Linked DNA regions of Homo sapiens: region 1 is linked to region 2. A link means that fine-mapping ties the variant in region 2 to the expression of a gene that starts in the linked region. Tissue or cell type: whole blood. Region 2 holds a variant in brackets; the other region holds the start of a gene. All regions are shown on one strand. Distances are between the middles of the regions.

Region 1 (8,000 bases), 25 kb before region 2:
ATGAGAAAGTGGAGGCCCAACAGGCCGGCAGGTGGCAGAGCTGGGACGGAACCCTAGCCAGCTGGCCCCAGCTGGGCATCTCTCCATGCCCACAACTCCTGCCCTGTGTGTGTGAGCTCATGGCTGGAGAGCTGCTCTGCTCCACACGCTCATTTGCTAAAGCAAGGTTCACCCAGGGCCTCCTCAGCACCAGACCCTGTGCCCCGTGCGACTAAACCCAACTGGGATCCTTGCTCTCACGGGGCTCAAAGTCCAGTGTGGGAGACAGAGAGATGGCCCCTGGCAACTTTGGATGCAGTTCTGGGTCACGCTCATACCCGTCCAGTTGAGTGTTTGGACTCACCAGCAGCCCTGACACTTGTTTCTTGCACTGTTTCACTGTGGCAGTTCCCGGGCAGGCCCCACATTGCCCTCTAGGTGGGCAGGATCCCTAACCACCTCCACTCCCAGGCTCTGGAAGAGTCTTTAAGGGAGTCACAGACAGGCAAAGTTGGGAGCAGGAAGCTTCCAGGTGAGGGAGGGCCCAGGCAGATGAGAATGGAGGTGGGTACATGGGAGGCCCAGGCTTCCAGCTCCTCTTCTCCAGAGCCCCCTTGAGCCCCGGCCTTTGTCCCTCTAACTCCCACCCGTCTCCCCAGGTGGTGAAGGCTGCAGCTGATGGAGACAGAGACTGTGTCCTGCAGAAGTCCAGGGACCTCAAATTCCTCACAGGCTTTGAAACCAAGGTGGGGAGACACTGGGGGAGAAAGGGGCTGGTGTCTGTTGGTGGGGTGCAGTGGGGGGCTGCTTATCTCCACTGAGGAACTCGAGTAGGTGATGGGGCATGTCGATACCCGGGGACTGGGGGACTCTAGGAGGGGCTTGTCTCCACTAGGGAGAATGGAGGCTGTGTGTCTATACCTGGGGAGTGGGTGACTCTAGGAGGGATGCTTATCCATGCTGGGGGCTTTGGGGAGGAGTGGGGGGAGGTGGCTGCCTGACTTCTCAGGAACCCTGGGAACATGGGCACCGTGGATCTGTTCAGGAGGGGCGAAGGCCGCTTCTCTGTTGTAGAGAGAGTAGAGGGCTACTTGTCTGTTGGAGGCTCTGCAGGGAAGTAAGGGGTGCTTACTCGGGGAATAGGCAGCTGCTTGTCTAGTCCAGGCTCTGGAAGGAGTGGAAGCTGCTCACTCTTGGGGGAGTCGGGGCTTGTGTTGATGGTGGAGACTGGAGGGAGTGGAGGCTACACGTTGTTTCTGGGTTATGCAGAGGGCTCTATGTCCACACTGGCTGCCTTTGCTCTCCCCCCACCCCCACTCCCAGGCATTCTCCGACGCCCACGTGGAGGCAGTGATGATCCTGGGGGAGCCTTTCGCCACCCAGGGCCCTTATGACTTTGGGTCGGGGGAAACGGCCCGCCGCATACAGGACCTCATCCCGGTGCTGCTGCGGCACCGGCTGTGTCCCCCACCCGAGGAGACCTATGCCCTGCACCGCAAGCTGGCAGGGGCTTTCCTGGCCTGTGCCCACCTCCGAGCCCACATCGCCTGCAGGGACCTCTTCCAGGACACCTACCACCGCTACTGGGCCAGTCGCCAGCCAGACGCAGCCACTGCCGGCAGCCTCCCCACCAAAGGGGACTCCTGGGTGGATCCCTCATGACAGCCTCCATGGGGGATTCAGTCCCCAGAGCAGGCCGTACCCTGCTGTAGTGCCTCTTATCCCTTCCCCGTCTGCCCTGGGTCAGAGGAGCCCCCTTGGGCTTCCCAGTCTTGCCTGGCTCTCCTCCTTGGCCCAGGAGCTCAGGATCCCTGGGGCTGGGGAACTCCCAACTTCGTGCCCTAGATCCTGCACCTCCCCACTCGAAAGTGGGTATCCGAAAACTAAGCCAGGGAAGCGGTTAACTTATCTTTGCCAACATTTGAGGGAGCCTTGGGCCGCTGCATGTCGTTATGCAGATCAGACTCATCAGGGGGAGCCCTCACCTCTGCCTCAAGCCTCCCGTGGAAGGCGAGATGGTCCTGGAGGCAGTCCTCACCTCTGCCTCCCTCGCTCCTCCAACAGCTGCCTTCTCCCGGGTTCCAGCCTCTCAGTGTGTTGGAGAGGTAGGGGTGCGGGGTGGGGGGGAGCTGAATCTTCAATCGGAATAAAAGCAGCCCTCCCCTTCCCCCAGCTCTTTTCTCTGCGCTAGGGTTGGGGGGAGAGGGGGAGGAGCTCGCCAGCGGCCTCCAGGTGCAGATGGCCAGCCCCCCTGCACCCCCTTGTCTGAAAGCCTCAGCCCTGCCTGTGCCATCTGTTGCCGGGAACCTCCTTCTCGCCTTCCCCACCCCCCCCCACGTGCTGACCACCTGCTCTAAGGGCTGTGGCAGCTGAGGCCTCCCACACACACAGTGCCTCTTGGCTGCGGGCTCCCTCCCCTCACTCCTGGCAACCTCGCCTTTACTAATGGGCTCTAATGTCCCTGCCAGCTGCTTTGCCAAACCCACAGGATTGGCGTAGGGGGCGGCGGGGGCGCCGTAGCGGCCAGAACCGCGCCCTGGTCCCACCCCGGCGCCCCCGTTCCCAAAGCCGAACCGATCGCGCATCAGGACGCCTTGGTCTGTTCACACCCCCTCCCCTTCCTTGCAAAAAGTGCCTCGTCACCGCTCCTGCCCGCCCCCGCCGGGCTGGGGAACCATGGGGTTAGCGGGAAGATTTGGGGGTGTGGGGCGGCAAGGCGCCTCTAGAAGCAACTCTTTCGGACGCGGAGCTGGAGGGGATCTGAGGTCAGGTGTCACGGAGGGAAAGGGAGCCCAGGCCAGGACGGACCGGGGGAAAGGACTCGGCGATGTTCATAGGCATGCTCAGCTCGGGACTGGCCAATGGGCGTGGCGGGGCGGTGGCCGCGCCGGGGAAGGCGGGATGGTGTCTGCGTGTGGGCGGGGTCTTCAGGCCAAGGGGCGGGGCGGGGCGGGACCTTTCTGCATATACGGCAGGCGGCGGGCCAATGGGCGGGGTCGGGGCGGGGAGCCGAGGCCGAGGGACGCTCCCCCGCCCCCGGAACGGAATCCTCCCGGGAGCCGAGGAGGCTCGCGCGCGTGCATCCCGCACCATCCCCCGGCCCCGGGCCCTGGCCGGCGTCAGACCGAGCTGCCGCCGCCACCACCGCAGCAGCAGCAGTCGGGGAGCCAGGCCCAGCCAGGGCCGCGGGAGGCGGGGGCGCCCGGGCCCTGGATGTCCCGCAGCGCGGCGGCCAGCGTGAGAAGGGCGGGAGAGGGGGGCTCGGGTCGGGGGCGGCGCCGCTGCTGATGTGGCGGAGGGTGGGAGGCGGCCGCGGCGCCCGGATGGAGAGAGGGTGCCAAGGCTGGAGAGGGTGGTCCCGGGTGGGGGTCCAGGAACAGGCCCAACAAGCCAAAGCCCAGGAGACCGGGGTCTTGGGCACAGACCCCTGGGCCATCTCTTGCCAAGGCCCTGGAAATAGGGATCCTGGACACAGACCCCCCACAAAACCAAGGACAGGGGTACAGAGATTCTAGGTACAACTCCTAGAACTAGATGGGGATGGAGATGGGGTCGGGGACACAGCCCCCGTATCAAACCAAGGCCTCCAGGACGCGATTCCAGACACAATCCCTACCTCTCCCTGCCTAAGGGGGTCTCAGCACAACAACTGCCTAGGTACGGTCTCGAGGATGGGGTCACTGGGTACAGCGTTCCCACCACGCCAAGGCCTAGGGGGACTCCAAGCACAGCCTGCCCCCAGGTCTCAGAGGCACCCTGGGCACAGCATCCCCCCAATCCTTGGGCGGAGTCCCAGGCACAGCCACTTCTCAAAACAAGGTCCCTGTGCCTGGGACTCCACCCCACCCCAGCCTGAATAAAATAAGGACAATTTCAGGCAACCCCCAATCCCTCCACCCCCTGGCTTGGTCATGGGTCCCAGGGCACAGGATCCCTAGGCCACCCCCTTTGTCCCCAGGGCTGCCCAGCTGTCCAAGAGTGGCCCCACCCGCAGACAATGCACCGCTTCCCCCTCCTGGACCTGGCCCTCAGGCTCCAGGATACAGGCTGGGCTGGGGGCGGCTCCCCAGGGACCGGGTGCAGCCCTGTCTGTCTGCAGTGTCTGCGGTGACGGTGACGGCGGCTTTGTGTGTGGTACCTGGGGGGAAGGGGGGAAGCAAGCGATGGGGAGGTGGCTAGGAGTGTGCCCTGTGTTTGTGTGACTGTGGCTGTGTATGTGTGTGTGTGTGTGCACGCGTACGCTGCAGCTGGTGACTGAGGAATCCTGTGTCGTGTGTGTGTGCTTGTGGTGGTGTCTATGATTGTGTCTGTGACCCTAGTATCTGTGTGACTGTGTATGTGTGTGTGACAGCTGCTCACTGTGCAGAATCCTGTACTTTTTAGTCTGTCTGTGTTTGGAGGTGTGCATGGTTGTGACTGTGGTTGTCTGTGATTGTGTCTTTTGTGACCCTGTGTTTGTATGCCTCGGTAACTATAACTGGGTATGTGACAGTATGTGTTGAGTCTGGGGGTGGGCATGCGTGTGACTGACAGGACGTGGGTGGAGTTGTGACTGTGTGTGAGTGGAGTTGTCTATGGCTCCATGTGCATGTGTGACCCTCCCAGTGACTGACAATGTTTATAGTTGTGTCTCTACCTGATTTTATATACGTGAGTGACACACACCTGTCTGTGCAACTCTGCCTGTGTGACTGCCATTGTGTCTGAAGTCACATTGTATCTGTGTGACTGGGGTTGTGTGACAGTATTGTGTATGACAGTGGTTGCGTATGCAGAACCATGTCTGAGTGTGTGACTGAGGTTGTATTAATATAAATGACTGTATCTAGCAGTGTGTGTGATAACGAGTGATTGTGTGTATTTCTAGCCTTGCATGTGTGATTTGGGTTATGTATTTGACTTGGTGTCTGAAACCCTGGCTATTTAGAGGGATTATTTGTGTGTGACTAAAGCTGTGGATGTGTCTCCGTGCTGGTGCCAGGAAATTATGTTTGTAGGGGTGTGTATATGATTATGGCTTCCATATTATTGTGTTTGACCTGCATGTCTGACCCTGGGTGACTATAGATGTCTGTGTCTATGTCATCATCTGTGAGAGTGTGGGGTCTGTAGCTGTGTGCCTGTTTTTGTCTCTGTGTGTATGTGCTGGACTACCTGTGTTAGAATGTGTGATTTGGTGATGAGATTGGCCCCTGACTGTGCACATGGCTCCGTCAGGACCTGTGTCTTCTGTGTAAACCCAGCTATAAATGCCACATCCTGGTCACTGCATTTATGTGCATACACTGGACTGTGTACTTGTGACATGGGAAACTAAAACTGTGTGCTTATGTCTCTATGTGTGAGATATGTGTGTAGGTGGGGCTTGTGACTTTGTGCACCTGTCCACACGGGGCTGTGATTCTATATGGCCACATACTTGTCTGTGTGACTTGTGTGCCTGCATGAAGAAAGGCTATATGTTTCGCTGCATTGGAGTGACATGGTACAGCTGTGTATGGACACTGGGTGACGGGATTATGACCATGATAGGTGGCTGGGTCACATGGACATTGATGCTGTGGCCATGCCTATAGGACCACCATGGCTGTGTCTTGAGGGAGGCCATCCTTGGGGACAGTTGTTTGTGGGTGGTTGCATGCTGTGGCCATCAGTACCTCTGTATGTGGTTGTGTATAGAGGACTGTCCCTATGAGTGTGGCTGTCACAATAGACTGTGTGACTGATGCTGTGACCAGATTTGAGCACCTATGACTGAGTATGTGTGACCACGTGACAGTGTGTGGCCAAAAACAGTGTGTTGGTGTGACTGGTCTGGTTGAGGCTGCATGTGGTCTCCGTGGGACCAAATGTGTGTCTGTCCGTGTGCATCTGTGACCAGATGTCAGTGTGCAGCAGTGGAGATACGTGTAACAAGTGTATATAGCTGCGATTGTGTCGTGTGGGACTGGGTCAGCAAATGGGTGAACTCTGGGTGTGATTCTATCTGGGTGGGCCTGTGACGTCAGTATCTTGGGCGGGTGCCTGAGGAAACATAGCTGTCACTGGGTGTGGCCACGCATGTGCGGCTCTAGTGGGTTGTCTGGGCCCCGTTCTTTGTATGTGGCTGAGAATGTGGAAGTGACCAAATTTCAGTGGGTGGTGTGACCAGGTGTCTGCGGTGGGAACTGAGTGGGCCAGGACATGCTGCATGTATGTGGACAAATGTCTGTAGTAGAGACTGTGTGTGTCCGAACATGAATATGCGGCCAGATGTTTACAGTGGCAGCTTTCTGGGTTTGGGACTGTTTCTGTGTATCTGCGATCTGAGGTGTGTAGCTGTGATTGCGTCTATGTGTAACCAAGTGTGTAAAGCTGTGGCCAGATGCTAGGGACACCTGTAGATATGAGTTGGCTGCGTATGTGTGTAGCCCTGCACATGCATCTGGAGGGCAAGGCCACTCTCACAGCATCCCCTTGGGCAGTGAGGCTCTCCTGAGGCCAGCACATCCCCAACATATGCCCCCCAAACATACCTACTCCTTCCTGGGCCCTTGGAACCAGGTGGCTGATCTCCCTGGTAACAGTTGCTAGGACAACTAGGACTCTCATCAGGGAGCCCAAGATGGAGGGGGCTGGCCGAAGTCCAAAGTCGGGGTGAAGTATCAGACTGAGCCCCAACCCAGACAAACTTCTCACCTTCTCCTCCCCTACTCGGGCAGGGCGGACCCCGGAGGCCTGAGCGGCACCTGCCCCCAGCCCCCTGTGGGGCCCCGGGGCCCCCAGAAACCTGCAGGACGGAGCCAGGTGAGCGACCAGCCTGGGACAGGGCAGGGCTGAATGGGTATGTGGTCTTGCCTAACACGACCAGAGGAGCTGTCCCTGCGGTCACACAGGCTTAATCACACTCATGAGTGGACACCCTCAGGCATCTTCCTCAGCGACTGTCAGAGCCCCACTCATGCACAGACCCACACCCTGACACCCTTACAGCCTCAAGTGCAGAGTCACAAACACTCACATCTGTAGATATACGGTTAGAGACACACACACACACACAGATCTCTTTCAGATCACACACACTTGCTAATGCAGTGACACACTTGAACACATGCTGAAGTAGATGTTCATCACACTAATGTACACACATATATACACACACACACATTCCTAGACAACACCCAGATTCACAGGTGACCACAGACGCTCGCTGGATACAGACTCTGAGATACACACTCTCAAGAGACACACTCTTGGCCGGGCGTGGTGGCTCAATGCCTATAATCCCAGCACTTTGGGAGGCTGAGGCGGGAGGATCACCTGAGGTCAGGAGGTCAGGAGTTCGAGACCAGCCTGACCAACATGGAGAAACTCTGTCTGTACTAAAAATACAAAATTAGCCAGGGGTGGTGGCACATGCCTGTAATCCCAGCTACTTGGGAGGCTGAGGCAGGAGAATCGCTTGAACCTGGGAGGCAGAGGTTGCTGTGAGCTGAGATCATGCCATTGCACTCCAGCCTTCATTCGCAACAAGAGCAAAATTTCGTCTCAAAAAAAAAAAAAAGAGACACACTCTTGCACAGTCTGACAACACACACAGACCCACATTTCTACAGACGACAGCCACACTTTCACAGACAGCACCCGCGGGCCCAGGCTCTCACAGGGAGCTACGGTTGTGTACAAACATGCACACAGTCTCACAAAGAACACCCAGCACTCTCTCAGGCAACAGTCACACCCTTACAAATAACCCTCATGAAAACACTCTCAAAGACAACCTCATGTTCCCACACACCCTAACGGATGCACCACTGCACACAGATACACCCTCTGTGCAATACCCACACACCCACACTCTAAGGCAACAGCCACAGTCACACAGGCTCACCGCCAACAGCTGCACTCTTGGACACAGACAGTCTTGTAGATCCCTCAGATGCACTCTCCGAGGCAATGTCATCACAGACAATAGCCACACCTTCACACAGAGACATAGCTACATGGATAACAGCCATGGACACACCCTTTGAAAGACGACA
Region 2 (8,342 bases):
GCCGGGCGTAATGGTGCGCGCCTGTAATCCCAGCTACTCAGGAGACTGAGGCACGAGAATTGCTTGAACCTGGGAGGCAGAGGTTGCAGTGAGCCCAGATAGGGCATCCCTGGGCAACAGAGTGAGACTCTCAAAACGAACAGACAACAAACAAAACAAAATAGTGAATCCTAGGCTTGGCACTGACCAGTCAGAAGGGTAGTGGGGCTAGGAGGATGTCAGTCCTACTTAGACTTTCTCATCATAGGGCCTTAGAAGCTCAGAATTGTATGTTCTTAGCACTCCAGAACCATTACGTGGTCCAGAATGGTGAAGTCACTCGCCTGAAGTCAGCAAGCTCGGGAGGTGCAGAGCTGGGATTCAGAGGCAGGCGGTCTGGCTCCAGAGTCCGTGCTCTGATCCCCACACCATGCCAGTTCCCAGCCTGGGGTTCTTCTGCTGAAGCCGTTGCCCCCTCCCTCACCTGTCCCTCTCCTCTCTCCAGGGACTTCTGCCTGGGGTGAGCCCTCCGTGCCCCCTGCAGCTGCCTTCCAGCCTGGGCACAAGCGGACACCTTCAGAGGCTGAGCGATGGCTGGAGGAGGTGTCACAGGTGGCCAAGGCCCAGCAGCAGCAGCAGCAGCAACAGCAACAGCAGCAGCAGCAGCAGCAGCAACAGCAGCAAGCAGCCTCAGTGGCCCCAGTGCCCACCATGCCTCCTGCCCTGCAGCCTTTCCCCGCCCCCGTGGGGCCCTTTGACGCTGCACCTGCCCAAGTGGCCGTGTTCCTGCCACCCCCACACATGCAGCCCCCTTTTGTGCCCGCCTACCCGGGCTTGGGCTACCCACCGATGCCCCGGGTGCCCGTGGTGGGCATCACACCCTCACAGATGGTGGCAAACGCCTTCTGCTCAGCCGCCCAGCTCCAGCCTCAGCCTGCCACTCTGCTTGGGAAAGCTGGGGCCTTCCCGCCCCCTGCCATACCCAGTGCCCCTGGGAGCCAGGCCCGCCCTCGCCCCAATGGGGCCCCCTGGCCCCCTGAGCCAGCGCCTGCCCCAGCTCCAGAGTTGGACCCCTTTGAGGCCCAGTGGGCGGCATTAGAAGGCAAAGCCACTGTAGAGAAACCCTCCAACCCCTTTTCTGGCGACCTGCAAAAGACATTCGAGATTGAACTGTAGCCCGAGCCGCCCCACCCACTCCATCATCTCCAGGTGCCCCACGCCTGGGGGTGGAGGCACAACCTCTCCCCTAACCCTGCTCCCTGGGGCTGCGCCCCTCAACACCCTCTCAACACCCCCCTCCCTCAACCACCCCGACAACCACTACAGAACCAACATTGTGACGCCCAGGTTGCAACAGGATGGAATTCAGGGACGGACCCAGCCTGGCTAAGGGAACCATTTCACTGCCGGACTTAGGCTGGCAATGCCCCCTTCCCCAACCCCAGACACAGGGGTTGGCCACAATCCCACTGAATGCCCTTGGTTCACACTCCATTTCCCAGTTTCTGTTGACCCCCACCTTCCAGTGTTGGACAGGATGGAGGGGGGACACTTGCTTAGGGGCTCTCCTGGGCCCCACACCAGTGCCCACCCCAAATCTGGTCGTCTCCTCCCCCCATGCACAGCACAAGCTAAGGGCTGCCCTCTGCCCACACGCTGCGTTCACTGCCAATGCTGTACTCACCTCCATCACCCTCCAACTTTGGGGCCCATGTCTTCCTTGGGCCAAGGTCTCATGGGGGCTAGGGCCAAGTTGGGGGCCCAGGAGGCGGGGAGGGAGGAGGAGGAGAAGATGCGCAGTTACCTCATGTCGGTGCCCGCTGGGGAGGGGTCCGGGAAGAAGGGGAAGGGGTGCCTGGCGGGTACTTTTCTATCTTTTATTTCCAGATTTTTTTTGTATCTAAACTTGAAGATTTGTATTATACAAGGACAGCCAATAAAGGAAGAATATAATGGTGCCCCTCGGGAAACGAGGGTGTGTGTAGGGCGCTGGTGAGGCCCTAGAACCTTTCCTCCTGAGTCATGGACTGAAACAGAGTCAGAAGGATGTCCCTGAGTGATAACCTCTGAGTCATAGCGTGGTAACAGGTACCACTGACTCAGCACCTGCCAGGCGGGTATTAAAGGAGCCAAAATTAATCACCCCATTTCTATTCCTTACAGAGTTAGAATCAAGGAATAAAAAACAAATATTATGAACTGCTGGCTGGGCACAGTGGCTCACGCCTGTAATCCCAGCACTTTGGGAGGTCGAGGCAGGCAGATCACTTAAGGTCAGGAGTTCGAGACCAGCCTGGCCGCCATGGAGAAACCCAGTCTCTACCAAAAATTCAAAAATTAGCCGGGCGTGGTGGCAGGCGCCTGTAATTCCAGGAGGCTGAGGCACAAGAATCGCTTGAACCCAGGCAGCAGAGGTTGCAGTGACCTGAGGTCACACCATTGCACTCCTGCCTGGGCAACAGAATGAGACTCTGTCTCAAAAAAAAAAAACAAAAAAAAAAAAACTACTTCTAATTAGCTCAATATTAATATTTTAACAAGTTGGGTTGGTAACAGTATATCTTTGCCCATGCTGGCAAATTCTTGTTTTGTCAGCATTTTCCATAACTCTGGCCAAAGTGTCACCTGATGTGGCAACGTTTTACAGTCTTGCTATTGTTTCTTGAGTCCTTTAATCTATAAGATGTATTTTTAAAAATATATAACATATAAATTTTGTTTCGTTATAGCTCTTTAAAATGAGGTGGTTGATTTTGTGCAGTCCAATATTCTATTCCCACTGGATAGATGGGGAAGTTGAGTCAGTGGCCCACGGTGATACATTTGATTAGTGTGGGCCAAAGTCAAAGGCAGTCGTGAAACCATCAGGCTGAGGCCGGGCACTGAGGTGGCTCTCACCTGTAAGCCCAGCACTTCGGGAGGCCAAGGTGGGAGGATCGCTTGAGCCCAGGAGTTCGAGGCCAGCCTGGGCAACATAATGAGACCCTGTCTCTACAAAATAATTTTAAAATTAGGTGGGCGTGGTGGCATACGCCTGTAGTCCCAGCTGCTGGAGAGGTTGAGGTGGGAGGATTGCTTGAGCCTGGGAGGTCCAGGCTGCAGTGGTCCGTGATGCAGTCACTGCACTCCAGCCTGTGAGGGTGACAGCGTGAGACCCTGTCTAAAAAAGCAGACAAAACAAAAGGCTGGGCGTGGTGGCTCATGCCTTTAATCCCAGCACTTTGGGAAGCCGAGGCAAGTGGATTACCTGAGGTTGGGAGTTCGAGACTAGCCTGGCCAACATGGTGAAACTCCGTCTCTACTAAAAATACAAAACTTAGCCAGGCGTGGTGGTGGGTGCCTGTAATCTCAGCTACTTGGGAAGCTGAGGCAGGACAATCGCTTGAACCTGGGAGGCCAAGGTTGCAGTGAGCCAAGATCACGCCACTGCACTCCAGCCTGGGCAACAGAGCGAGACTCTGTCTCAAAAACAAAAAAGCATCAGGCTGTGAGGGAACAAGCCTAGGGGTCTGCCCTCTATAGCGTTTCCATTACATCCCATTAACCTGCTTGTGGACTCCAGGACTAGGAGACCTAAGACAGCTCTGTCGGGGTATGACGTTGGGGGAATGTCCCAGGCAGGGAGCAGAGGACCCTGCCAGAGATAAGCCACACTCTCACCTCCAAGCTTTTGCATTTGTCATTCTTTCTGCCTAGAACACCCTTTCCTTCATGGTGACACAGCACTTCCCAGAAGAATGCTACTCATTCTTTAGGACTCCGTTCAAATACCTTTTGTTAGAAGGTGACCCTCTTCCAAGGCCCTGAGCCCCATCCTATCCTTTCATTAGGATTTATTTATTTTTTGAGACAGAGTCTCACTCTGTCGCCCAGGCTGGAGTGCAGTGGTGTGATCTCATTGCAGCCTCCACCTCCTGGGCTCAAGCGATTCTCCTGCCTCAGCCTCCCAAGTAGCTGGAACTACAGATGCCTTGCCACCACA[C/T]CTAGCTAATTTTTGTATTTTTAGTAGAGACTGGGTTTCACCATGTTGGCCAGGCTGGTCTGGAACTCCTGACCTCAGCGATTTGCCCACCTCGGCTTCCCAAAGTGTTGGGATTACAGGTGTGAGCCGCCGCGCCCAGCCCAGTATTTTTGCTATTATTATTTTGGAGGCAGGGGTCTCACGCTGTCACCCGGGCTGGACTGCAGTGGGGCAATCATAGCTCATTGCAGCCTTGAATTCCTGGGCTCAACCAATCTTCCCACCTCAGCCTCCTGAGTAGCTGGGACTATAGGCGTACACCACTATGCCCAACTGATTTTTAAATTATTTTGTAGAGATGGGGGTCTCGCTATGTTGTCCAATCTGGTCTGGAACTCCTGGCCTCAAGCGATCCTCTTGTCTCTGCCTCCCAAAGTGCTGGGATAACAGGCGCCCGGCCCCATCCTACCTTTTTGGTCTAAGTTCAGACGGCTCTTCAACCCCCCCAGACTGAGTCAGCAGCACCCACTCTCCCCTTGGATCCTACAGGCCCCTCTCCTCCCCTATCCCAGCCCTGACCCATCTGCCTGTGCCTCCCCCGTCCTCTCAATGACTCATTCTGGGCTGTCACTATCTGGTGGCAGGTCTGTCTGCCTCACTGGACTGTGAGGGAGAAGGGGGTCTGGGGCGTCTCAGTCACTTCCCCGTGCCAACACAGGGCCAGGCACAGAAGAGGCAGCCTCAGTGTTTCCCCTCTGCAAACCACTAGGAAGTGAGAGGGGCAGAAACGGCCTAGGACTGGGACAGAGAGGATTTGAGCAACTGGAAGGATGGGGAACTGAGGTCAGAAGCACGCAGCAAATCTGGGACACAGTCAAGGCACCCCCACCCCGTCCCTGACTGATCTCTTCGTTCAACCACCCTTCCTTGCGCCCAGAGCAGCCTTTCTCAGAGCTGCCCCCACAACGGTTCCCGCGGATGCAGATGGAAGGGGGCCGTCCCGGGGAGGACCTCCCACAGGCTCCTCTTGGCCCATTTCCCATCTTCCCTCCCACGCCCAGGATGGAGACTCTGGCTCTCCACGGAGCTTTTCGCTCCAAAGAGGCCCTGGAACCCGGATCAACCGCCCACTCCCACTTCTCCAGGTTTCAGCCCGCTAAGAATAGACCAGGGACATCGCACTGGAAAGCCCCGCCCTACCCAGGAACCCCATCCCACACAAACGCCTATCGAGGTCATTTTGGGGGAACAGGAGGACGTCCCCCTGGGGCCGGTTCTGCACTCCTCTCTCCCGTTCTTTGGGAAGCTCCGCCCTCCGTTGCAGCCCCGCCCCTCGCGGCCGCCCCCTTTCCCGGAACCGCCCCCGGCCGCGCAGGCTATTTTGATGCATTCCACGGGTGACAGAGCCGGGCGCCCCCACCCCGCTTCCTGTTGGGTGATTTTGTTTTGTTTTGTTTTGTTTTTTAAAGCTCCACCCCCAGGAGGCCACAGTTTCTCCGGGAGCCGGCCGCGCAGGACCGGGGACAGCCCTGGCCCCTCGCTGCACAGCGCTGGGACCGCCCCACGGAGCGCGGCGTCTCATGCTCCCTGGGGCCCGCTGCTTCCACTGCCCTGCGCAGGGCCACGCGCCACCCCGGGCTGCCTGGCCGTAACCTACCCCGTCCACCCTCCAGGCGCGCTCGCCGACCTCCCGCACCTGTGGGGCCACGTGGTTGCCGGGAGCGCTCCTCTAGCGTGGTGAAGCAGCGCCCCCTCGTGGTCTTGCGCTCGCGGCGCCTGGGCGGCCGCCCCTCCAAGACTTTGCTAAGGCAGGAAAAGTGTTTAAGAAAAATTAAAATTGTGCTGGGCGCGGTGGCTCACGCCTGTAATCCCAGCACTTTGGGAGGCCGAGGCAGGTGCATTACCTGAGGTCAGGGGTTCAAGACCAGCCTGGCCAAAATGGCGAAACCCCGTCTCGACTAAAAATGCAAACATTAGCCGGACGTGGGGGCGGGCGCCTGTAGTCCCAGCTACCCGGGAGGCTGAGGCAGGAGAATCGCTTGAACCCGGTAGGTGGAGGTTGTAGTGAGCCGAAATCGAGCCACTGCACTCCAGTGATAGAGGGAGACTCGGTCTCAAAAAAAAAAAAATTGCTGTCGCATTCATGAACATTATACTTCAGGCCCTGGCTCAGCCATTCACCCCTCTGGGAAGTCCTCCCTGACTGGTCGGGCGCCTCCTTTGGGCTCCTATGGTTCCTTATGCTCCTCAACTGGGCCTGTACCTCCCCGCCCTGGCCCGGATCCGTCTGCCTGTACATCTCCCATCTGGACCTCGACCCCTTTGCCCTCTGCCTGCACCTCACCAGTCCCCGCCCCGACCCCTCTGCCTGTGCCCCCCATTCCAGCCCAACCTCTCTGCCCGGGCTTCCCCCATCCTGGCCTCCCACCCCTCTGCCTGTCCCCTCCCCACCATCCCGCCGTGATGGCTCTAGGCTGTCACTGTCTATAATGGGTCGGCGTCCCCGCCCTGCACAGAAAACCTCATGAGGGCAGGGAAGAGAGCTGTCTTGATAACTACTGAGTCCTCAGTATTACCAAGGTAACATTTATTTCCTCCCTCAACACTGGTTTTGTTTTAACAGCTTTACTGAGGTATAATCTACCTGTCATAAAATTCACCTATTATAAGTGATTTACTGATTTTGGGTGATTTTACAGTTCTGCAGCCATCACAGCCAATTCAAGAACATTTCCATCACTCTGAAAAGATCCCTTCTGCCCATTTGCAGTCGCTCCCTATTCCCTGTCCCAGCCCCAGGCAACCACTGGTCTACTTTCTGTCCCATACATATTCTCTTCTTCATTTTACAAGCATTTTCTGAATATTTATTTTTATCAGCTATTGAGGGCTGAGGGTACACAATGAAACTCACAGGCCCTGCCTTCAGGGAACTCAGAGTCTGGTTATTGTAATAGCTGATGGGAAAATATGTCCATGCACTAATTTCTTCATTCATTCAAAAAACATTTATTGGCCAGGCACTGTGGCTTGTGCCTGTAATCCCAGCACTTTGGGAGGCTGATTGGGGAGGGTCACTTGAGGCCAGGAGTTCAAGACCAGCCTGGAAAATATAGTGAGACCCCCCCCCCCACCCCGATCTCTACAAAAAAATTTTTTTTTTTAATTATCAAGGTGTGGTGGTGCACACCTATAGTCCCAGTAACAGGAAGCTGAGGTGGGAGGATTGCTTGAGCCCAGGAGGTCGAGGCTGCAGTGAGCCATGATTGTGCCACTGCACTCCAGCCTGGGTGACAGAACAAGACCATCTCTACAGAAAAAAAAAAAAAAAAAAAAAAGAGAGAAAAAGAAGGGTCTTCCAAAAATTCATGGAAAATGTGTATTATGAAAAAACTATGCATGGAGTTCAATTTTTTTTTTTTGCACCAAAATAAATTCATACTAACTTGTTATAACTTGTCTGAACAGGACCTAGTTTGAGACACTAAAATAAAACATCAGATTGAAAAGAGCCCCTATCAGAGCAACACGAATTCTAAAATTGAAGCAAGAACAAGCATCAAATTGATGGTGAAGCTTGGGTGGAAGAATGATGAAATCATTGATGTTTTCCAAAAACTTGACAGTGCCCCAGAGAAATCAGCCATTTACAAATGGATAACTCGTTTTAAGAAGGGACAAGTTCGGGCGTGGTGGTTCACGCCTGTAATCCCAATACTTTGGGAGGCTGAGGCCAGCGGATCATTGGAGCTCAGGAATTCGAGACCAGCCTGGGTAACATGGTGAAACCCCATCCGTACAAAAAATACATAAATTAGCTGGGTGTGGTGGTGCACACTTGTAGTTCCAGCTACTCAGGAGGCTGAGGTGGGAGGATCACTTGAGTCTGGGAGGTAGAGGTTGCAGTGAGCCGTGATTGCGCCACTGCACTCCAGCCTGGGTCATGCTGAAGATGAAGCCCACCGTGGCATACCATCCACATCAATTTTTGCAGAAAAAAATTAAATTTGTTTATGCCTTAATTAAAGAGGACTTACAGTTAACAGCAGAAACAATAGCCAACACCATAGACATCTCAATTGGTACAGCTTACACAATTCTTTTTTCTTTTTTTTTTTTTTTTTTTTTGAGACAGGGTTCTCATACTGTCGCCCAGGCTGAGTACAGTGGTGAGATTGTGGCTCACTGCAGCCTCAACCTCCTGGGCTCAAGCGATCCTTCCACCTCAGCCTCCGAAGTAGTTGGAACTACAGGTGCGTGCCAGCACGTTCAGCTAAGTGTCACACGCGTCCCTGTGAAGAGACCACCAAACAGGCTTTGTGTGAGCAACAAGGCTGTTTATTTCACCTGGGTGCAGGCAGGCTGAGTCCAAAAAGAGAGTCAGCAAAGGGTGGTGGGATTA

What was found. PIP is the estimated chance that this variant, and not a neighbour inherited with it, causes the effect.
Region 1: it holds the start of NUMBL, and the variant in region 2 is fine-mapped to the expression of NUMBL in whole blood (TOPMed, PIP above 0.99).

Annotation. Positions count from the first base shown.
Region 1 is chr19:40,685,676-40,693,675 of GRCh38, reverse strand. It overlaps NUMBL (NUMB like endocytic adaptor protein), which reads left to right and starts at 3,025. Exons shown (of 10, transcript NM_004756.5): 1 at 3,025-3,216; 2 at 6,681-6,765. The coding sequence starts at 3,193. It overlaps COQ8B (coenzyme Q8B), which reads left to right. Exons shown (of 15, transcript NM_024876.4): 14 at 639-725; 15 at 1,303-2,146. The coding sequence ends at 1,641. RefSeq lists silencers at 2,333-2,572, 2,893-3,232 and enhancers at 1,919-2,856, 4,072-4,121, 3,795-4,734, 5,858-6,152.
Region 2 is chr19:40,660,281-40,668,622 of GRCh38, reverse strand. It overlaps NUMBL (NUMB like endocytic adaptor protein), which reads left to right. Exons shown (of 10, transcript NM_004756.5): 10 at 485-2,718. The coding sequence ends at 1,155. Among named protein-coding and RNA genes, the nearest start is that of NUMBL, 26 kb to the left of the region's middle. RefSeq lists a silencer at 5,426-5,705. The variant C/T (reference allele first, on the strand shown) is at 3,962.